Linked DNA regions of Homo sapiens. The main gene of each other region encodes a partner of the protein of the gene in region 3 in a complex. Each region holds a gene or a part of one and is shown on either strand. Other genes may lie near its edges.

Region 1 (7,021 bases), on a different chromosome or scaffold from region 3:
CTCTACTAAAAATACAAAAAAAATTAGCTGGGTGTGGTGGCGGGCGCCTGTAGTCCCAGCTGCTCTGGAGGCTGAGGCAGGGGAATGGCGTGAACCCGAGAGGCGGAGCTTGCCGTGAGCTGAGATCGCGCCACTGTGCTCCAGCCAGGGCAACAGAGCGAGACTCCGTCTCAAAAAAAAAAAAAAAGGATCTTAAGTATTTTGTCTGACTCTGCCATTTAGTTTATTCCTTTGTTTACCTGCCCAATGGAACTGTTTGCTTGTAACTACACATTAATATAACTAAATTTTGAACTTAATGTTACATGCCTTGCTATACATGGGGCTCTTTGGGGACATGCTCATTTGTGGGATTAAAATTTCCAAGACGGTTTGAAGTTTGTAATTACTATAAAATCCCTCATCTTTAATCTGTGGAGCTGTAGTATTAAGTGAAGGCCTTGGTATGTTCATAATTACGATAGTCATGTGACTGAAAATCAGGCACTGAAGCTGCTCGTTCTGGGTGTTGGTCTCAGTTTATTGATGCTTCATCCAAATACATTTTTATAGCTAATAATAAAGAAAAACATCAAATACTCTTGCTAAATTGCAATCAGTATGCAGTTTATGCCAAACTTAGCTTGATTTTATTTTTTGAAGAGGATGAGTATGTATATTTAAGCATATGTGTGTGTGTGTATATGTATATATACTTGTGTATACGTATATACGTGTATACGTATATATATGTGTACATATACGTGTATACGTATATATATGTGTACATATACGTGTGTGTATGTGTGTGTGTATATATATATATTTTTTTTTTTTTCTCTTTTGAGACTGAGTCTCACTCTGTCGTCCGGGCCAGAGTGCAGTAGCGCCATCTCGGCTCACTGCAACCGCCGCCTCCTAGTTCAAGTGATTCTTGTGCCTCGGCCTCTGGAGTAGTTGGGAGTACCAGCATGCGCCACTGTGCTCAGCTAATTTTTGTATTTTTAGTAGAGACGGGGTTTCACCATGTTGGTCAGGCTGTTCTCGAACTCCTGGCCTTGTGATCTGCCCCCCTTGGCCTCTGAAAGTGTTGAGATTGCAGGTGAGAGCCACTATGTCTGGCCATATTTAAGCATATTTATGATAGTATCTTAAATTTAAGTGAAGGGAAAGAGGAAAACATACACAGCCAATGAAGTAAGTTTGAAGTGGAGTGAAAGGAAAAGTTGGAGGTAAAAAGAGGTTAGAGAGGTGGGCAGGGGCCAAATCATATAGGGCCTTTAGGACATGGGAAATTCTTTGGATTTGTTCTGAGATTAGAAGTCATTTAGATATTCTTTAGAAAGGGAATGACATGATCTGATATTAAAAAAAAAACTAGAATCACTGTGAGTAGGAGTAGATCTAATTCCATTCTGACTAAATAGTAAACTAATATGATAATTTGGACAAATATAAAAAGGAATTCCTGGCTGGGAGCAGTGGCTGATGCCTGTAATCCCAGCACTTTGGAAGTGCTGGGCAGGTGGATCACTTGAGGTCAGGAGTTTGAGACCAGCCTGGCCACATGGTGAAACCCTGTCTCTACTAAAAATACAAAACATTAGCTGGGCGTGGCAGCAGGCGCCTATAATCCCGGCTATTCAGGAGGCTGAGATAGGAGAATCACTTTAACCTGGGAGGCGGAGGTTGCTGTGAGCAGAGATCGAGCCATTGCACTCCAGCCTGGGAGACGGTGCAAGACTCAAAAAAAAAAAAAAAAAAAAAAAAACGGAAAGGATTTCATAATATTAATTTCCTTGACTTAGTGACTTCTGCCTATTTTATTTGAAGTCATTGGTTCTTCTCTTCTCTTCTCTTGAGACAGGGTCTCACTGTCACCCAGGCTGGAGTGCAGTGAGTGATCTTTGTTCACTTCAACCTTTGTTTCCCAGGTTCAAGCGATTCTCGTGCCTCAGTCTCTAGAGTAGCTGGGACTACAGGTGTGTGTGTGTGACCATGCCCGACTAATTTTTGTATTTTTAGTAAAGACGGGATCTCACCATGTTGGCCAGGATGGCCTTGATCTCTTGACCTCGTGACCCCGTGACCCACCCACCTTGGCCTCCCAAGGTGTTGGGATTACAAGCATGAGCCACTAAGGATTTGTTTTTAAAATTTTTTTGCTTTATTTTTTTCTTCTCTTTTTTTGTACTAGAGATGGTGTCTTGCTATGTTGCCCAGACAGATCTTGTACTCCTGGGCTCAAGTTGTCCTCCTGCCTCAGCCTCCCAAAGTGCTGGGATTAAAGATGTGAGTCAAGCGATTCTCGTGCCTCAACCTACCCACTAGCTCGATTACAGGTGCCATCCACCACCTGCCCACCACCCTTGGCTAATTTTTGTATTTTGTATTTTAGTAGAGACAAGAATTTTACCATGTCGGCCAGGCTGGTCTCAAATTCCTGACCTCAGGCAATCCACCCGCCTCAGCTTCCTGCTGGGATTACGGGCGTGAGCTACCCTGGCCAAGATTTTTAATTTCTGAAGCTTATAGCTGCTCTAAAGCACAAGGATTCAGTCCCATGATTTAAAAAAGTTGCTTGTTTTGACTTCAAGTATATGGTTGAGCATTCTAACTTTTGTTATGTATACATTTTTATTTTACTGTATTCTTCTAGCCATTGTATCCTAGTCTGTATGTTGCAGATGAGTTGTGATTCTCTGGTGTCTCTTCCATGGACCTAGAGATCATATGCTCTACTACTGGGATTTTTTTTTGTAACTTTGTTTGGGATATAGGCTTTGAGAGGTTAAGGAAGTAAATTTAAGATGGATATTTAATGTTGTAACACTTTGTTAATGCTTTTTTCTACAAGATAATTTTATTATGTGATATGGCAGCTTTGTTGGAAATACCTGTTTTTTTGTGTGTGTGGAAAATTTCTTTTCTGGATGAAATCTCTTGTTTAACTTTTCCAGTTATTCATAATGAAGCTCTGTTTATCTTTTGAAGATCTTAAGTTCAGAAACAGAAGGCAGGCTGCGTATGGTGGCTCATGCCAGTTATCCCAGCACTTTGGGAGGCCGAGGTGGGTGGGTCACCTGAGGTCAGGAGTTCGAAACCAGTCTGACCAACATGGTGAAACCCCATCTCTACTAAAAATACAAAAATCAGCCGAGTGTATTAGTGAGTGCCTGTAATCCCAGCTACTCGGAAGGCTGAAGCAGGAGAATCCCTCGAACTTGAGAGGCGCAGGTTGCAGTGAGCCAAGATTGCTGCACTCCAGCCCGGGCAACAGAGCGAAACTCCGTCTCAAACATACACACAAAAAAAAGAAGGAAAGAAAAGGCAGTAGAGTATCTTATTTAAGAGCATGGATTCTGGAGAGAAACTGACAGTTAAATACTAGCTCTGACACTTGATGGCTTGAGACCCTTGGCAGTAGTATGTCTCCTTTGTAATTCAGTTTTTTTCTTCTGTAGAAAGGGAATGGTAAGGAAGCGCCATGAGATTTCAGTGAGAGAGAAGCACTTACCTCAAGTGCCAGACATGTAGCCCTTCAACTAACTTATTTTATTTATTTATTTTTTGAGATGGAGTTTTGCTCTTGTTGCCCAGGCTGGAGTGCAATGGCGTGATCCCAGCTCACTGCAACCTCCACCTCCTGGATTCAAGTGATTCTCCTGCCTCAGCCTCCCCATTAGTTGGGGTTTACAGGCATGTCACCATGCCCAGCTAATTTTTTTTTTTTTTTTTTTTTTTTTGAGACACAGTCTCGCTCTGTCACCCAGGCTGGAGTGCAGTGGCGCGATCTCGGCTCACTGCAACCTCCGCCCTCCGAGTTCAAGCAGTTCTCCTTCCTCAGCCTCCTGAGTAGCTGAGACTACAGGTGCCCGCCACCACGCCCGGCTAGGTGTTTTTTTTTTTTGTATTTTTAGTAGAGACAGGGTTTTACCGTGTTAGCCAGGATGGTCCCGATCTCCTGACCTCAGGTGATCTGCCTGCCTCCGCCTCCCAAAGTGTTGGGATTATAGGTGTGAGCCACCGCGCCTGGCCTACTTTTTTTATTATTTTTTTTTTTGGAGACAAGAGTCTCGCTCTGTCGCCCAGGCTGGAGTGCAGTGGCGTGATCTCGGCTCACTGCAAACTCTGCCTCCCGGGTTCATGCGGTTCTCCTGCCTTAGCCTCCCAGGTAAACTGGGACTACAGGTGCATGCTGCCACGCCTGGCTAATTTTTTTTTTTTTTTGTATTTTAGTAGAGACGGGGTTTAACCATGTTGCCCAGGCTGGTCTCCATCTCCTGAGCTCAGGCAATCTGCCTGCCTTGGCCTCCCAAAGTGCTAGGATTACAGCCGTGAGCCACCGTGCCTGGCCTTCTGGCCTTTTTTTTTTTTTTTTTTTTTTTTTTTGAGACGGAGTCTTGCTCTGTTGTCTAAGCTGGAGTGTAGTGGCACAATCTCGGCTCACTGCAATCTCTGCCTACCAGGGTGCAAGCGATTCTCCTGCCTCAGCCTCCCAAGTAGCTGGGACTACAGGTGCGTGCCACCATGCCCGGCTAATTTTGTGTGTGTGTGTGTGTGTGTGTGTTTTACTAGAGACGGGGTTTTACTTTGTTGGCCAGGCTGGTCTTGAACTCCTGACCTTGTGATCCACCTGCCTTGGCTTCCCAAAGTACTGGGATTACGGGTGTGAGCCACTGCGCCTGGCTTTTTTTTGGAGAGATAAGGTCTTGTTTTGTCATCTAGGCTGGAGTGCAGTGGCACAGTCATAGCTCATGGTGGCCTCCAACTTTTGGTGTCAAGGTATCCTTACGCCTCGTCCTCCCTAGTAGCTGGGACTACAGGTGTATGTGCCACTGCGCCCAGCTAATATTTTTACATTTTGTAGAGATGGAGTCTTGCTGTCTTGCCCAGGTTGGGTCTCAGACTCCTGGGCTCAAACAGTCCTCCCACCTCAGACTCCCAAAGTGCTGCAAGTACGGGCATGAGCCACTGAGTCCAGCTATCTTCAACTTTCACTATTCAGGTTACAGTTTGTAGTACCTTTTTTCGGGGGTGGTGGGAGGGTAGTGGGAGTAGCACCCTAAGATTTCTTGGAATAAAACAGGGCTTACTACTTGGTTCCTGGTACTTAAGAACAGTGGTTCCTAGACTCCACTGTTCCCAAACTTGGAATCCAGTTCCCCAAATTGGAATCACCTGAGGTTTAATTACCTTCATGGAGGTTTAATTTGCATACAATAAAATGCACATACTTTAAATGATAGTTTGATAATTTTTTTGTTCTTATTTTTTTTAGACATAGGGCCTTGTTCTGTCACCCAGCTGAAGTGCAGTGTCGGAATCATGGCTTACTACATCCTCGACCTCCTAGGCCCAAGAATTCTCTGCTTTAGCCTCCCGAGTAGCTGGGACTGCAGGTGTGCACCACCACGCCTGGCTACATTTTTATTTTGTAATTTTTTTTTTTGTAGAGAGAGGGGTCTCACTATGTGCTCAGACTGGTCTTGAACTCCTGGCCTTAAGTGATTCTCTCGTCTCAACCTCACAAAGCCCTGGGATTATAGGCATGAGCCACCACAAACCGCCAGTTTGATAAATTTTGATGAATGTGTATACCCAAGTAATTGCCACTCAGTCGAGTTAAAGAGCATTTCCTCAAGGCTTTAAATTTTTATTTTTATTTTTGAGACGGAGTCTTATTCTGTCATCTAGGAGTGCAGTGCCGCAATCTTGGCTCACTGCAGCCTCTGCCTCCCGGGTTCAAGTGATTCCCCTGCCTCAGCCTCCTGAGTAGCTGGGACTACAGGTGCGTGCCACCACACCCAGCTAACTTTTTGTATTTTTAGTAGAGATGGGGTTTCACTCTGTTAGCCAGGATGGTCTCGATCTGATCTTGTGATCCGCCTGCCTCTGCTTCCCAAAGTGTTGGGATTACAGGCGTGAGCCACCGCGCTCGGCGGGTTTCTTTTTTTTTTTTTTTATGAGATGGAATCTCGCTCTGTTGCCCAGGCTGCAGTGCAGTGGCACGATCTCAACTCACTGCAACCTCCGCCTCTCGGGTTCAAGCGATTCTTCTGCTTCAGCCTCCCGAGTAGCTGGAACTACAGGCACCCGCCACCACGCCCGGCTAATTTTTTGTGTTTTTAGTGGATACGGGGTTTCGCCATGTTGGCCAGGCTGGTCTCAAAGGCCTGACCTTGTGATCCTCCTGCCTCGGTCTCCCAAAGTGCTGGAATTACAGGTGTGAGCCACTGCTCCTGGCCTAAAGTTTTTTAGACTAGTTTTTTTGTTCATTCGTTTTATTTGCTTGGCTTCCTAGAATATGACAAGTTTTGGTTTGTTTTTGAGACAGAGTCTTGATCTGTTTCCCAGGCTGGAGTGCAGTGGTGCTATCGTGGCTCACTGCAGCCTCTAACTCTTGTGCCCAAGTAATACTCCTGCCTCAGCCTCATGAGCATCTGGGACTACAGGCAAGCACCACCATACCTAGTTAATTAATTTAATTTTTATAGAGATGACGTTTTGCCATGTTGTCCAGGCTGGTCTCTAACTCCTGAGCTCTGGCCTCGCAAAGTGGTGGGATTATAGGTGTGAACCACTGCACCCGGCCTAGTTTTTTATTTTAAGAAATATATATACTTGGTAAAAGTAAACTCCTGCAATAAGGTTTACAATAAGCATATATAAATTCTTAGCCAGCTCACTGGGAGGTACCTAATGGTTCATTTTTCTTTGTCAGTTTTACTAGATACGCATTGTCTTAGAGGCAATGTAAGTTTGGAATTAGGCCAAACAAAGTCAAATCCTGATTCTGTGCATCCATTGAAGGTTAACCTTATAATATTTACATTTTGAGATAAATGATTTCATGCTCTTATTTAGGAAACTTGACGGTATGTTACCTCAGGGATTGTTCCTTGCCTGTCTTTCCCCAAAGAACTTGAGTTTGAAGTGATTTTCACTTGGCAGTAAATTGAAGGTTTTCTTCATTGCTTACCACCATGTGCCTTATTCCTGCTGCTCTTGATCTCCAAGTGCCCTTACTGCTACAGAAAGG
Region 2 (8,013 bases), on a different chromosome or scaffold from region 3:
CAGCTTGGGAAGTTAATCATTATGTCTAGCTTCAGTTTCTCCTGCTTCAGTTTAAATTGGGAAAGAGAGAGAAAAAATATTCACTCATTATCTGTTTCCTAAAATTGTCCTTAACATCCTTCCTCTTACTCCTTTATTACCTGGTCGGGCTTCCCCTCTTCAGGCGAAATCTGTCAGTCTATCTGCATTGCCTTTTGATCTCTACTTCAGTTACTACAACTTCAAAGACACCATTGTCCTCCCCAAGGTGAGGCCCATGTAGAGAAAGGATCACTTCCTTGCTGAAAGAGAGGGTCAAGGGGCGACCCACGTGGGCCCTCCCTGAAACCCAGGCCCAGGCCTGAGCCTGGACACCTCCTTCCTTCCTGAGACCACAGCCAGCCCGGTTTCTCTGGGGCCAAGAGCAAATGCTTTGCTTAAGTGCTGAAATCTCAGCCCACTGACCCCTTGCAGACAGGAGAGGAGGGGAAGCCCAGGGAAGCTCAACTTCCCAAGTGTCCTGAGTCTCTGCTGGGGCCAAGCCCCCCACCCTCCCCCAGCTATCCTGCATTCTCCCTCCCTAACACTGTTCTCTCCCTAAGAGATCAAATCCCCCCACCAGTGCACAATGCACTCTAATTCTCCATTGTAAAAGTAAAGCACTCTCTTGACACTCCCCTTCTTCATTTGGCTCCAATCCCATTTATCTGCTCCCTTTACAGCAGGCCCCCTTGTCTGTTGCCTGTACTGCTGTCCCCAAGTCCTCCCATCCCCTCCCATTCCCTCTAGTTCCCCATCCAGCTCCAGTGAAACTGTCACCAGTGACCTCCCATTGCTCAATCCTCAGCCCTCAGCCTGCTTGCTCTGCCAGGGGCATTGGTCATATTTGTTCCCTCCTTCCTCTTTGGGGCATTTTCTTCATTTCCTCCAGGACACCCCAACTCTCTGATTTTCACTCTTTCTGTCTTCTTGGCTGGTTCCTAACACTGGGGGCCCCAGCACTCAATGGTTAGACCCCTTCTCTTCTCCATATCACTCCATCCCTAGATGAGCCCACCTGCTCTTGTGGCTTTAAATACCAGTTATATGGTGATGATGCCCAAAGTTTTATTTTCAACTCCAACCTCCGCCCTTAACTTTTCCCAACTGCTTACTCATCATTGATGCCTAATGGGCAGCTCAAACTCCACAAGCACAAAACCAAACTCTTGATCTCTCCGCTAAGCAACTCCCATTTCAGTTCATGGCAGCTTCAAACCTCCAGAAGCTCGAGCCAAACACTCAGAATCATCTTTGACTCTACCTTTCTCTTGCACCCCAAACCCTATCGACACGGCCTTTGAAATATATCCCAAATCTGAATGTCTGGTTTTCTTTTTTTTAACCACCTCTGGGCCATGGGCAAGACACCATGGTCTCTCCCGAGAATGACAGCAATGATCCGCTCAACGGGCTCTCCTTCTGCCCTTACCCCACCCCCCCCATGATCCATTCTCCACCCCACAGCTAGATGGGCCTGCCAGACCCCAAGTCAAAGCAGGTGACTCCTCTGTTCCAAACCCGTGCTCCCATCATGCTCAGAGTGAAAACCAAAGCCTCCCAGCCCCCCAGATACTCATGTGGCTCACCCCTCAATTCCTTATGACTTTGCCCAGCTATCGTGGTCTTGGGGAAGCCTTCCCTGGTTGTGCTATATACAATGCAATACCCAGCCCCAGCACCCCATCCTGCTTCCCAGCTTTGTTTTACTCGTAGTACTTCCCGCCACCTGCTACGCCATGTATTTACTTATTTCATTGCTGTCCATTCCTTTCTAGAGTGTGCACTCCATGAGGGCAGGGGGTTTTGTCTGATTTTCCTACTGCTCTGTCTCGTGTCTCATCCAGTGCATGAATGATGACTGCTGGAAAGAATGAAAGAACTGACTTGCTCTGCATGGCTCCGGGAGACAGACATGGAACCAAGGTGTAGAATCTGTAAGCCACAGATTTTAGCTAAAGGAAACAAGAGCTGCAAGGCACTAAAAAGCCACCTCATCAGTAATAAGCTCCCCACCACTGGGCATGTGTCACAGAGGGGCTCTGCACTGGGTAGGAGGGAGGTGGGCTGGATGAGGATGCTTCCAGCCTCAGATCCCAGGGTGCAGCGAGGCAAAGGGGCCTTGAGCAGCCAACAAACTCAGGGGCCCCAGCAGCCCCATGGCTGAGTGATCGGGACAGGCAAGTACAGGTGGTGGGGATGTCACTCTGGTCTTTTTCACTAAGGGGTCAGGGGAGGGTGACAGGGCAGGTGTTTCCCCTCTGTAGAACAAGGACCCTGGAGGAGGCTAGGTCACAGCCCATGGGGAAACCAAGGCCATGGCAGGAGAGGCTCAGAAAGAGCAAACTCAGAAGCAGGGGTCCAGCCCCCAGCCCTCATGCAGCTTCAGGAGGTCCTCCCCAGGGGGATTGGGGTGGAGGGCTTTTCAGTTTGTTGGAATGAAAGCAGGACCAGATGGCTGCTCCATCAACCTGAGAAGCATAGGAGAGCAAACAGCTGGGGGATGTGGCCTCGCAGGTCCTGGTGTGGGCTGTCTGGGAAGGGATGGATTTGAACTTAGATCTCACACCCAACAAGGGAGAAGGAGGAGGCAGGAGATTCCCATAAGAGGTACAGAGAGCAGCAGCAGGATCCTCCAGGCAGACTCTCTCACTTATACCCACCCACTCACTGGCATGGTGAAGCTGGGGAAACTGAGTCCCACAGAGAGGAAGGAAATCAAAAGAGTGGCCCAGGGGCCTCCCCAACCTCGAGATGCCCCCTTTCCGTCTCACTTCCCATCTACATTCTGGGACTCCCCCAGGAGAAACCGAGGCAACCCTTGCCCAAGCCCTGCGGCCAGGACGGCTCAGAAGCCAAGTGTTCAAGTCCCGGGGGTGGGACCCTCGGCGCCCACAGTCTCCCCCCAGCCCACCCCCAGGCGCTGGGCACAGCACTCACCGCGAGCCGCCTGCGCGCCGACTCCAAGGCCCACTCCGGGCCACGACTCCCGGCTCCGGCTCCGGCTCGGGCTGCGGCTCCGGGTGCGCGGGCGCTCGGCTCCGCCCCCGCCCGGACCCCGCCCCTGCTCTGCCGGGACCGCAGCACCCGCTCCTGTCCCGTGGCCCCGCAGCCCCGCAGCCCCGCAGCCCCGCAGCGCCGGCTCCAGGGCTGGCCAGGCTTACCTGGGACAGGGCAGGACCGGGGCTTCCTGCGGGGCTGGACGGCCCTGGCTGTGTGCCCTAGCCAGTGTGCCTCTCTTTCTGGGCCACGTTTCAACCAGGAGGGAATCGGGGAGTCCTCGGAACAACCCGCTTCCCAACACATACACATACACACACACACACACCACACACCACACACACCGCTTCCCAGCACACACGCGCACACACACACACCACACACACACCGCTTCGCAACACACACACACGCCCTGCTTCCCCCCCACACGCAAACATGTTTCCCAATACACACACACAGCCCTCGCTTCCCCCCACACACAAACATGCTTCCCAATACACACACAGCCCTCGCTTCCCCCAACACACATACCTTGCTTCCCAACACTCACATACACACACACACACGCCCTGCTTCCCCCCACCACAAACATGCTTCCCGATACACATACACCCCCTACTTCCAACACACACACCCTGCTTCCCAACACTCACACACACACCACTTCCCAACACACACACACCCTGCTTTCCCAACACATACACCCCACACACACCGCTTCCCAACACACACGTGCACACACACACACACCCCACACACACACCACTTTCCAACACAAACACACACTACACTCCCTGCTTTCCCAACACACACACACCCCACACACACTGCTTCCCAACACACACGTGCACATACACACACCCCACACACACACCACTTCCCAACACACACACACCACACCCCACACACACCACTTCCCAACACACACACCGCTTCCCAACACACACAAACATGCTTCCCAATATACACACACCCCACTTCCCAACACACACACATCGCTTCCCAACACACACATCGCTTCCCAACACACGCCTCACTTCCCAACACACACACACACACACACGCACACACAGCCAAAACTAGGAAAACTTTTCCAGAGTGTGACAGGTTACATGTTAGGTAAGAGTGGACTGGTCATTTAAGGTTCTTTTTTTTCATTTTCCTTTCAGTTTTTCCGTTTATGTTGAATGGAGTTTATTTCTCAGTTTAGTACTAATAGGGTTTGAGTACCTTTCTAGCACTGCCTAGATTACTTGGCTCTGAAACTATCTAATTAGCTTTAATAGCATTGTTTTTGTTTCCATTAAATATATTTTATTTTACATTCTTCTGTTCTCCGGAGCAAATGACACCGGTTTTCCATTTAACATGTTAATGTAAATGTTCCTTTTGAAACTCATATTTGGTTGTTTTAAAAAATGTGAAGTCAATTTTTAAAAATAACGAAAATAACTGGCATCTAGAAAGTGTTTACCATGTGCTAGTCTTTACAGACAGTAACTCAGTTACTTCCACCTCTAGGGTATTGACTATTATTGCCTCTAACTTATAGATGCAGAAACTGAGGTACACATTTGAACTTTGATCTCACGCCCACCAAGGGAGAAGGAGGAGGCAGGAGATTCCCCTAAGAGGTGCAGAGAGCAGCAGTAGGATCCTCCAGGCAGACTCGCTCACTTACACCCACCCACTCACTGGCATGGTGAAGATGGGGAAACTGAGTCCCACAGAGAGGAAGGTACTCAAAAAACAGTGGCCCCCTCTGAGACCTGAAGCCCGGGCTCCTCAGGACTTCTCACTCCTGCCAGGGGCCTCCCCAGCCTCGAGATGCCCCCTTTCCTCTGGCACCAGAGATGGGGATTTGCCCCAGGCCTCTGGCACAGATGAATGCTCTAACCACTACCCCATACCGCTTTCAAGTAAATACCTGTGCAGGTGGTGCACAGTCAGCCAAGGTTGGAAAATGCTGCATTAGAAGGACTGAATCTACCCTAGAAAATTCATTCTGGGCAGCGCACAGAACCATCTACAAGGATGTTCACCACCATCTTGCCTACAGCAGTGAGAAGCTAGAAACCTCCCTAATGCCCAGTAACAGAAAATTAATTAAGAAAACTGACAGAACATCTGAACCTAGAACACTTAACCCGACCCATCTTCTCTCAGCCCCACTATCCAATCTGGGAGCAAATTTTTCAGCTTGGCCTTCAAATATTTCCAAGCTGCAGCCCATTTTTGCCATATGCACCATTACCACCTGGGTCCACATCTCCATCATCTCTCACCTGGGTGATAGCAGGAGTTCCTGGCCATTCTCCACGCCTCCATCTACAGCCCTTCTTCAATCCAGCAGCCAGAGTGAGTCTGTTGGTTTTGCTGTTGTTGTCGTTGTTGCTGTTTTAAGTCAAATTCTATCACTCCTCTGCTGAAACTCTTCTGTTGATGGCTCCCATCCCAAAGTAAAAGCCAAGGTCCTTACAATTGCTGTTTGGCCTCTGGCACCCTCTCTGCCCACCTCTTACACTCTCATCTTACTCACTCTGCTCCAGCTACACTGGCCTCCTGGCTGTTCCTCAAATATGCCAAACCTGCAGTTACACTCAGGCCTTTGCCTTTGCTGTGCCTGGAATGCTCTTTCTTTAGAAATCTACCTGGCTCCCTCCTTCCTCTCCTTTGGGTCTTTGCTTCCATATGACTTTCTCGGCAAGGCCTTCCCTAACTATTCGGTGTACAGCTGCAACACCCTCCAATCCCTTCTCTCCTGCTTTATTTTGTATTTTTCTCCATAGCGCTTATCTGCACACAACACATTATGTATTCTACTTATTTATTGTCTTTGTTGTTGGTCTCTCACCCAAGACAGCATGAGCTCCAAGGGAACAGGGAATTTTTGCTTTGTCCCTTGCCTTCTCCCAAGGCCTAGAACAGGACCTGGCATGCAATAAATCTTTGTTGAGTGAATATACTAAAAATAATGCTGTGGTTCTAATAACCAATGAAAATAAATGAATCACTGTACCCCCACGAGAACTGCAGCCTCACAGACATAATGTTGGGTGAAACAGGCTGAGTGCAAGAGCGTGCATACGGAATGGTATCCTTTCTATAAAGTTCAAAAGCAGGCAAAACTGCATTACAGGTAGGAGCCAAGATAGAGGCTACCACTGGGGAGAAAGTTGGAGGTAGTGACTAGGGGAGGAGTGAAGGGGACTTCTGGGGTGCCAGTAATCTCCTATTTTTACTCTGAATAGTGGTTGCATTGATGCAAATACATTGTGAAACTGACCAAGTTAAACACATGATATTTATATTTTCCTTTATGCTTGTCATATTTCAATAGATATTTATTTTTTAAAGATGCTATAAGTATGTTTATCAGATAGAAAGCTGCCTAGAATATATAAGGCTAAATTTATAAAGTAGACTCTTTTTTGAACGAGGATGCCAAGATGATTCAGGGGGAAAAAAGTGGTCTTTTTAACAAATGGTGCTGGGAAAACTAGATGTCCACATGCAAAAGAACTGAATTTGGATTCCTCCTTCAGGCCTTATACAAAAATTAACCCAAAATGGATCAAAGTCCCAAATGCAAGATTTAAAATATAAAAATCTTAGAAGAAAACATAGGTGAAAATCTTTGTGACCTTGGATGAAGCAATGATTTCTCAGATTTGACACCTAAAGCACAAACAACCAAAGAAAAAAATAGATAAGTTGGACTTTATCAAAATTCCAAGCTTTTGTGCTTTGAAAGACATGATCAAGAAAGTAAAAAGACAACCAACGGAATGGGAGAAAATAGTCACGACTCATATCCAGAATATATAAAGGACTCCTGAAACTCAATAACAAACAACTTTTTAAATGAGCAAAGGATTTGAAAATGTTCAGAGAACGTATGTAAGTAGCCAACAAGCACATGAAAAGACGCTCAACATCATTAATTGTTAGGGAAATGTGAATCAAAGCCACCATAAGATACCACTTTACACTCACAAAGGTGCCCTTAGTCCAAAGGACAGAAAACAAGTGCTGGAAATAATGTGGAGAAACTGGAAGCCTCATACATTGGTGGTTAGAGCGTAAAGTGGTGAAGCCACTGTGGAAAATAGTTTGTGGGTTCTTCATAAAGTTAAACATGGTGTTACCATATGATCCAGCAATTCTACTCCTAGGTATACTCAACAGAATTGAAGCATATATGCACACAAATGCTTGTACACAAATGTTCATAGCAACATTATTCATAAGAGGAAAAAGTGGAAGCAAACTAAATGTCCCTCAGCTGATGAATGGATAAAGAAAATGTGATCTATCTGTGCAATGGAATATTATTCAGCTGTGAAAAAAACAAAGTACTGATAAATGCTACAACATAAATGAACCTTGAAAACATTATGCTAAGTGAAAGAAGCCAGTCACAAAATGACATCTATTGTGTAAGTCCGTTTACATGCAATGTCCGGAATAGGCAAACCCATGAAGACAGAAAGTAGATTTGTTGGTTGCCAGGAACTGAGAGGAGGGAGGAATGAGGAGTGACTGCTAGTGGGCATGAGGTTTGGTTTTTGTTTTGTTTTGTTTTGTTTTGTTTTTGCATGATGAAAATATTCCGGAATTAGATCATGGTGATGGTTACACAACCTTGTGAATGGACTAAAAACCAGTGAATTACACACCTTAAAAGGGTGAGTTTTATGGTATGTGAATTATATCTCAATGAAAAACAGTTGGGCTGCCAAATGCTTTGTGTAGAAAGAATATAAGGCTAAATTTAAAGAGTAGGTTGTTTTTTAACAAGGATGCCAAGATAATTCAAAGGGGAAAAATGATCTCTTTAACACATGGTGCTGGGAAAACTAGATATCCACGTGCAAAAGAAATGAATTTGGACTACTACCTCATACTTTATACAAAAATTCTGTAATAGATATGTGTGAATATATGCATTGAAACATCTAAAAGACAAGTTAGGATCGGATTTTAACTGGACTT
Region 3 (7,021 bases):
TTAAAACGTGTGCCCAGATCCCCATCCTGGTTAAAAAACTGCTCATGCCTATAATCTCAGCACTTCTGGGAGGCTGACATGGGAGGATTGCTGGAGCCCAGGAGTTTGAGACCAGCCTGGGCAACACAGTGAGCCACTGTGAGCCATGATCCTGCCACTGCACTCCAGCCTGGGCAACATAGCGAAATACTATCTCAAAAAACAAAACAGGCTGGGCACAGTGGCTCACACCTGGAATCCCAGCACTTTGGGAGGCTGAGGCGGGTGGATCACTTGAGGCCAGGAGTTCAAGACCAGCCTGGCCAACACAATGAAACCCCGTCTCTAATAAAAATACAAGAATTAGCCGGGTACGGTGGTGGGCACCTGTAATCCCAGCTACCCGGGCAACTGGGGCAGGAGGATCAGTTGAACCTGAGAGGCGGAGGTTGCAGTAAGCCAAGATCATACCAATTGCGCTCCAGCCTGGGCGACAGAGCGACTCCATCTCAAAAAATAAAAATAAATAAAACTGTGAGCTCAGCGGCTGGACCCCCTGGGTTCCCACCCCTGCCGTGCCACCTCTTGGCTCTGCGCTTCACCTCTGTGCCTCAGTGTACCACTTTGCAAAACGAGCATATTTAAAACTCATGTCAATGATAGAATGATCGAGAGAGTGCTGTTCTCTAGGCAGAGGTTACCGCAAGCTGGGAGCCACAAGGGGACCTGCCGGGTGATGGAAATGTTCCTTATCTTGATCTCGGTCAGAGGTCAGCACGCGTTTTCCAGAAAGGGCCAGAGAGTCAATATTTTTGGCTTTGTGGGCTAGACAGTCCCTGTCTGCTTTGTAGTTTGAAAGCAGCCACAGACGATATATGTACACTGTAAGCGTGTCTCTATTCCAGTAAAACCTTATTGGTAGTACACGCGGAAGTTTGAACATTGTAGAACTTTCATGGGCAATGAAATATTATTCCTTTTTTTGTTTTTTTTTATTCCCCCAACGATTTAAAAATGTAAAAATCAGTTTACCTGTGGTCCCAGCTACTTGGGAGGCCGAGGCAGGAGGATGACTTGAGCCCAGGAGTTGGAGTCTGGCCTGAACAACATGGCAAAACTCCATCTCTTTTTTTTTTTTTTTTGAGATGGAGTCTCACTCTGTTGCCCAGGCTGGAGTGCAGTGGCGTGATCTAGGCTCACTGCAACCTCTGCCTCCCAGGTTCAAGGGATTCTCCTGCCTCAACCACCCGAGTAGCTGGGACTACAGGTGTGTGCCCACCACACCCAGCTAATTTTTGTATTTTTAATAGAGACGGGGTTTCACCTCGTTGGCCAGGCTGGTCTTGAACTCCTGACCTCAGATGATCTGCCCACCTCAGCCTCCCAAAGTGCTGGGATTATAGGTGTGAGTCACCATGCCCGGCCACTGCATCTCTTAAAAAAAAAAAAAATAGTGAAAGCCATTCTTAGCTCTTACAAACTATAAAAACAGGCTGGCCCACCAGCCAGCATTTGCCAACTCCTAGGCTGGCTGATGGTTTCCTGGGTGGATGCATATGTAACCTGTTCCTCTTGCCCACCTCACTGAATGCATTTTATTTATTTATTTATTTTGAGACAGAGTCTCACTCTGTCGCCCAGAATGGGCGTTGGAATGCAGTGGCGTGATCTCAGCTCACTCCAATCTCCGCCTCTCAGGTTCAAAGATGCCCATGCCTCAGCCTCCCTAATAGCTGGGACTACAGGCATGTGCCATCATGCCCAACTAATTTTTGGTTTTAGTAGAGATGGGGTTTCACCATGTTGGCCAGGCTGGTCTTGAACTCCTGACCTCAAGTGTTCTCCCCTCTGCAGCCTCCCAAATTGCTGAGATACAGGTATGAGCTACTGCACCCAGCCTGAATGCATTTTATCTTTTATCTTTTTTTTTTGAAACGGGGTCTCGCTCTGCCATCCAGGGTGGAGTGCAGTGGCGCAGTCATGGCTCGCTGCAGCCTCGACCTCCTGAGCTCAGGTGATCCTCTCACTTCAGCCTCCCAAGTAACTGGGACTACAGGCGTGCACCACCACACCTGGCTAATTTTTTATAGATCTAATTTTTTAGAAAGTAGAAGTAATGGGTTGGGCATGGTGGCTCACGCCTGTAATCCCAGCACTTTGGAGTCAAGAGATCAAGACTATCCTGGCTAACATGGTGAAATCCCATCTCTACTAAAAATACAAAAATTAGCCGGGCGTGGTGGCGCACGCCTGTAATCCCAGCTACTTGGGAGGCTGAGGCAGGAGAATTGCTGGAATCTGGGAGGCGGAGGTTGCAGTGAGCTGAGATCACACCACTGTACCCCAGCCTGGGCGACAGAGTGAGACTCAGTCTCAAAAATAAAAAAAATAATAATAAAAAATGGACATTGTCAAGCCAGGCATGATGGCTTGCACTTGTAGTCCCAGCTACTCAGGAAGCTGAACGAAGAAGATCGCTTGAGGCCAGAAGTTTGAGACCAGCCTGAGGAACAGAACAAGACCCCATCTCTACAAAAATTAGGCCGGGCGCGGTGGCTGACGCCTGTAATCCCAGCACTTTGGGAGGCTGAGGCAGGTGGATCACCTCAGGTCGGGAGTTGAAGACCACCCTGACCAACATGGAGAAACCCCATCTCTACTAAAAATATAAAAAATTAGCCGGGCGTAGTGGTGCATGCCTGTAATCCCAGCTGTTTGGGAGGCTGAGGTAGGAGAATCACTTGAATCCGGGAGGCGGAGGTTGCAGTGAGCGAAGATCACACCATTGTACTCCAGCCTGGGCAACAAGAGTGAAACTCCATCTCAAAAAAAAAAAAAATGAGCTGGACGTGGTGGTGCATGCCTTTAGTCCCAGCTACTCAGGAGGCGGAGGTAGAGTTGGAGGCTGCACTGAGCTATGACTGCGCCCCTGCACTCCATCCTGGAAGACAGAGCAAGACCCTGTCTCTAAAAAAAAAAATTCAGGTTGGGCATGGTGGCTCACGCCTGTAATCCTGGCACTTTGGGAGGCCGAGGCGGGTGGATCACCTGAGATCAGGAGTTCCAGACCAGCCTGGCCAACATGGTGAAACCCCGTCTCTACTAAAAATACAAAAATTAGCCAGCCATGGTGGTGCAGGCGTGTGGCTGGAGGAGAGTGAGTGAGGGGCTGCGTGGGAGGAGAGGTGAGGACAGAGAGGTCGGGGGCAGATCTTGCAGGGCCTCGGAGGCTGCTGTGGTTATGAGGGCATCTCTGACTCCCCTTACTCTGGCCTCCTCTCTCCGCCACAGAGCTCCCCCATCCAGGAATCCACTGCTCCCGAGCTGCCTTCGGAGACCCAGGAGACCCCAGGCCCCGCCCTGTGCAGGTGACACCACTCCCTGGCCCCCTGTCCACCACCCCTGCCCGCTGTCCTTGTTCTCACCAGTGGCCTCTCTCCACAGCCCTCTGAGGAAGTCACCTCTGACCCTCGAAGATTTCAAGTTCCTGGCGGTGCTGGGCCGGGGTCATTTTGGGAAGGTGAGGTGGAGGGCAGGGAATTGGGAGACCCCCCAGGTCCCTGGCTGGCCGCTAAAACCACCCCTGCCCACTGTGGTTCCAGGTGCTCCTCTCCGAATTCCGGCCCAGTGGGGAGCTGTTCGCCATCAAGGCTCTGAAGAAAGGGGACATTGTGGCCCGAGACGAGGTGGAGAGGTGGGGACCTGCCGTGGTCCTCTGGGGACCTCTTTCTTCTCTTTTGGGAAATGACAGAGCAGTTCTCTCCTTGGAGCTACAGGGAGAGTGACTCATAGTAGTCACTAACGCCAGGCACAGTGGCTCTTACCTGTAATCCCAGCACTCTGGGAGGCCGAGGCAGGTGGATCACTTGGGCTCAGAATTTCAAGACCAGGCTGGGCAACATGGTGACACCCCCATCTTTACAAAAAATACAAAATAATTAGCTGGGTGTGGTGGCACATGCTTGTAGCCCCAGCTACTCATGAGGCTGAGATAGGAGGATCGCCTGAGCCCAGTAGGTCAAGGTTGCAGTGAGCTGAGATCGCGCCACTGCACTCCAGCCTGGGCAACACAGTGAGACCCTGTCTCAAAACAAAAAGTCACTAATACCTACTAGCCTAATACCAAGATAATAATAGCTCTTAGGAAAGTTATTCATTTGTTCCTCCATGTAGCCCTATAAGATAAATACTGATGGCACAGAGAGGTTCAGCAATTTACCCAAGGTCACACAGCCAGTAAGCAGCAGGTCCAGGATTCAAAGCTAGAGACTCAGGCTCTGAAGCCTGTGCCCTTTGTGGTGCCACCATACTGCCTCTGCTTTAGGGTCAGGTTCCTGGGTTCAAATCTCAATTCTGCAGCATGGGCTTGGAGATCCTGGGGAGGTCACTTCTCCCTTCAGAACCTCAGCTTCTTGGCTGGGCATGGTGGCTCACGCCTGTAATCCCAGCACTTTGGGAGGCTGAGGTGGGCAGATCATCTGAGGTCAGGACATCGAGACCAGTGTGGCCAACATGGTGAAACCCCGTCTCTACTAAAAATACAAAAATCAGCCAGGCATGGTGGCGGGTGCCTGTAGTCCCACCTACTTGGGAGGCTGAGGCAGGAGTATCGCTTGAACCCAGGAGGCGGAGGTTGCAGTGAGCCAAGATCGCACCACTGCACTCCAGCCTGACTCTGTCTCAAAAAAAAAAAAAAAAAAAAAAAAGAACCCCTCTTGTTGTGGAGAAGCAGAATGCTATTGCCTTCCACACATGGTTGTCAGGTGCTCTCTACACAGTGCCTAACCCCTCTAAACATTCGGTACAGGCACTGAGATTGTGCCTGGTCTTCCCAGCATCCTTTTGATAATCAGGAACCCAACTGAGAAAGACTGAAACAAGTAAAGAAATTTATTGGTCTGGATCTGAAAAGTCCAGGAGTGTGCTACCTTCAGGCATGGCTGTATCCAGGTGCTGAGATGACGTTTCTCAGTTCTGCTTCCCTCTGTATGGGCTTTGGTTGCCATCTGGGAGTCTGGAGTAAGTGGCGGCCATGGTCTCTGACTTCTATCCCCCACCCCTCCCCAGCCTGATGTGTGAGAAGCGGATATTGGCGGCAGTGACCAGTGCGGGACACCCCTTCCTGGTGAACCTCTTCGGCTGTTTCCAGACACCGGAGCACGTGTGCTTCGTGATGGAGTACTCGGCCGGTGGGGACCTGATGCTGCACATCCACAGCGACGTGTTCTCTGAGCCCCGTGCCATGTGAGCCTGGACCCCAGCCCGGGCCCCTGCCTCCCCTACAGCATCTGACACTTAGTCCCCCCGAGAGGCTGGCAGCCTGCTTCTCACCCCTCCACCCTCAGGCCTTGCTTCCCTCAGCCTCCCAGAGCTTTGGGGAGACTGGGGGGCTTTTGAGGATGTGGAAGCCAGGCTTATGTGACCCTCCCTCCTTGCAGGGTGGCCCCACCCCTCTCAGCAGCCTCTCTCTCTCTGCAGCTTTTATTCCGCCTGCGTGGTGCTGGGCCTACAGTTTCTTCACGAACACAAGATCGTCTACAGGTGTGTGCGTGTGTGCATGCATGTGCACACTGCCCGTTGTGGGGACAGGACCCAGACCCCCGCTCATCCCTCTTTCCACCCCTCCAACCCCCAACAGGGACCTGAAGTTGGACAATTTGCTCCTGGACACCGAGGGCTACGTCAAGATCGCAGACTTTGGCCTCTGCAAGGAGGGTGAGGGGCTGGCCTCTGGATTAGACAAAGGAGGGGGAAGGAATGGGGTCCCTAACCCTATTCGGGGTGCCCCCCACCCTGACCCTGGGACAGGGCTGGCTGTGTGGACAACCCCACATTGGGCTGAGTGACTCCTCTGGCCCCCATAACCTCACATGGCCTTGCTGTCCCCAGGGATGGGCTATGGGGACCGGACCAGCACATTCTGTGGGACCCCGGAGTTCCTGGCCCCTGAGGTGCTGACGGACACGTCGTACACGCGAGCTGTGGACTGGTGGGGACTGGGTGTGCTGCTCTACGAGATGCTGGTTGGCGAGGTGAGACCCCGCCCCTGTGTGTCTCGGATCTCATTGGAACCTGCGCGTGCCCAGGGTGGGATCCAAGTCTGCCTCCACCATGTGTTGTGTGATTGAGGGCTGCTGGCTCTGCTTCCCTGGCCTCAGTTTCCACATCTATAAAATGGGGCATTTCCCTGCCCAAGTAAGCCAGCACCCAAGAGCTGCAGCAGAGTGTGGGGCTCAGGCCGGGCTGGGTTTGGAGCAGCCAGAGGAGGGGCCTCGTTCACCCCGGGCCTCCCTCTCCCCAGTCCCCATTCCCAGGGGATGATGAGGAGGAGGTCTTCGACAGCATCGTCAACGACGAGGTTCGCTACCCCCGCTTCCTGTCGGCCGAAGCCATCGGCATCATGAGAAGGGTGAGGACCCCCGACGTGGGGCGGGCCTGGGGAGGGGCAGTGGGGCCCAGGAGGGGACAGATCCTGACACAGTGCTCCTTCCTCCAAGCTGCTTCGGAGGAACCCAGAGCGGAGGCTGGGATCTAGCGAGAGAGATGCAGAAGATGTGAAGAAACAGCCCTTCTTCAGGGTGAGATTCCCCACAAGGACCTCAGTGACCCCGGCCCTCCCCCAGGGCCGATTCATCACCCCACAGCAGACGGCCCCCATGCCTAGCCGCTTTGCCTCAAGGGCCTCGTTGCGCCTCAAGGGCCTCGTTGCACCTCCAGGGCAACATCGTCACCTCCTTTGACACCCCCATTTCCCTCCTCCACTTTTGTTCCCCCCAAGGACCCTCCTAATCCCACATCTCCACTTTTCCCTTTTTTTTTTTTTTTTAGCCAGGGTCTCGCTCTGTCGCCCAGGCTGGAGTGCAGTGGCTCAATCTCGGCTCACTGCAACCTCCGCCTCCCAGGTTCATGCAGTTCTCCTGCCTCAGCCTCCCGAGTACCTGGGATTACAGGCGTGCACCACTCCACCACACCAGGCTAATTTTTGTATTTTTAGTAGAGACGGGGTTTCGCCATGTTGGCCAGGCTGGTCCTGAACTCCTGG

The links. Proteins that work in one complex are often made in the same cells at the same time.
Region 1: the proteins of PKN1 (region 3) and RHOA are in contact, whole or in part, in a crystal structure (PDB 1CXZ), measured with the Homo sapiens proteins. Residues at the interface, in NP_002732.3 of Homo sapiens: Glu40, Arg43, Arg44, Ile46, Arg47, Leu50, Lys51, Lys53, Glu54, Glu57, Asn58, Arg60, Arg61, Leu77, Arg78, Ser81, Leu84, Asp85, His88; in NP_001300870.1 of Homo sapiens: Met1, Ala2, Phe25, Ser26, Lys27, Asp28, Gln29, Val43, Asp45, Ile46, Glu47, Gln52, Glu54, Thr163, Lys164, Arg168, Glu169.
Region 2: PKN1 (region 3) and NOD2 share a complex: the UniProt entries of both Homo sapiens proteins name them as parts of the signaling complex.

The regions. Positions count from the first base shown.
Region 1 is NC_000003.12:49,401,962-49,408,982, reverse strand, and holds part of RHOA (transforming protein RhoA isoform 1 precursor), read left to right. Parts: intron 1-2,176; exon of another isoform or gene 2,177-2,271; intron 2,272-7,021. UniProt on the Homo sapiens protein: Small GTPase which cycles between an active GTP-bound and an inactive GDP-bound state.
Region 2 is NC_000016.10:50,688,608-50,696,620, reverse strand, and holds the start of NOD2 (nucleotide-binding oligomerization domain-containing protein 2), read right to left. Parts: upstream 3,016-8,013; 5' UTR 2,959-3,015; intron 1-2,958. UniProt on the Homo sapiens protein: Pattern recognition receptor (PRR) that detects bacterial peptidoglycan fragments and other danger signals and plays an important role in gastrointestinal immunity.
Region 3 is NC_000019.10:14,464,295-14,471,315, forward strand, and holds part of PKN1 (serine/threonine-protein kinase N1), read left to right. Parts: intron 1-3,270; coding exon 3,271-3,347; intron 3,348-3,423; coding exon 3,424-3,499; intron 3,500-3,581; coding exon 3,582-3,673; intron 3,674-5,046; coding exon 5,047-5,223; intron 5,224-5,457; coding exon 5,458-5,520; intron 5,521-5,617; coding exon 5,618-5,694; intron 5,695-5,868; coding exon 5,869-6,011; intron 6,012-6,280; coding exon 6,281-6,388; intron 6,389-6,476; coding exon 6,477-6,557; intron 6,558-7,021. UniProt on the Homo sapiens protein: PKC-related serine/threonine-protein kinase involved in various processes such as regulation of the intermediate filaments of the actin cytoskeleton, cell migration, tumor cell invasion and transcription regulation.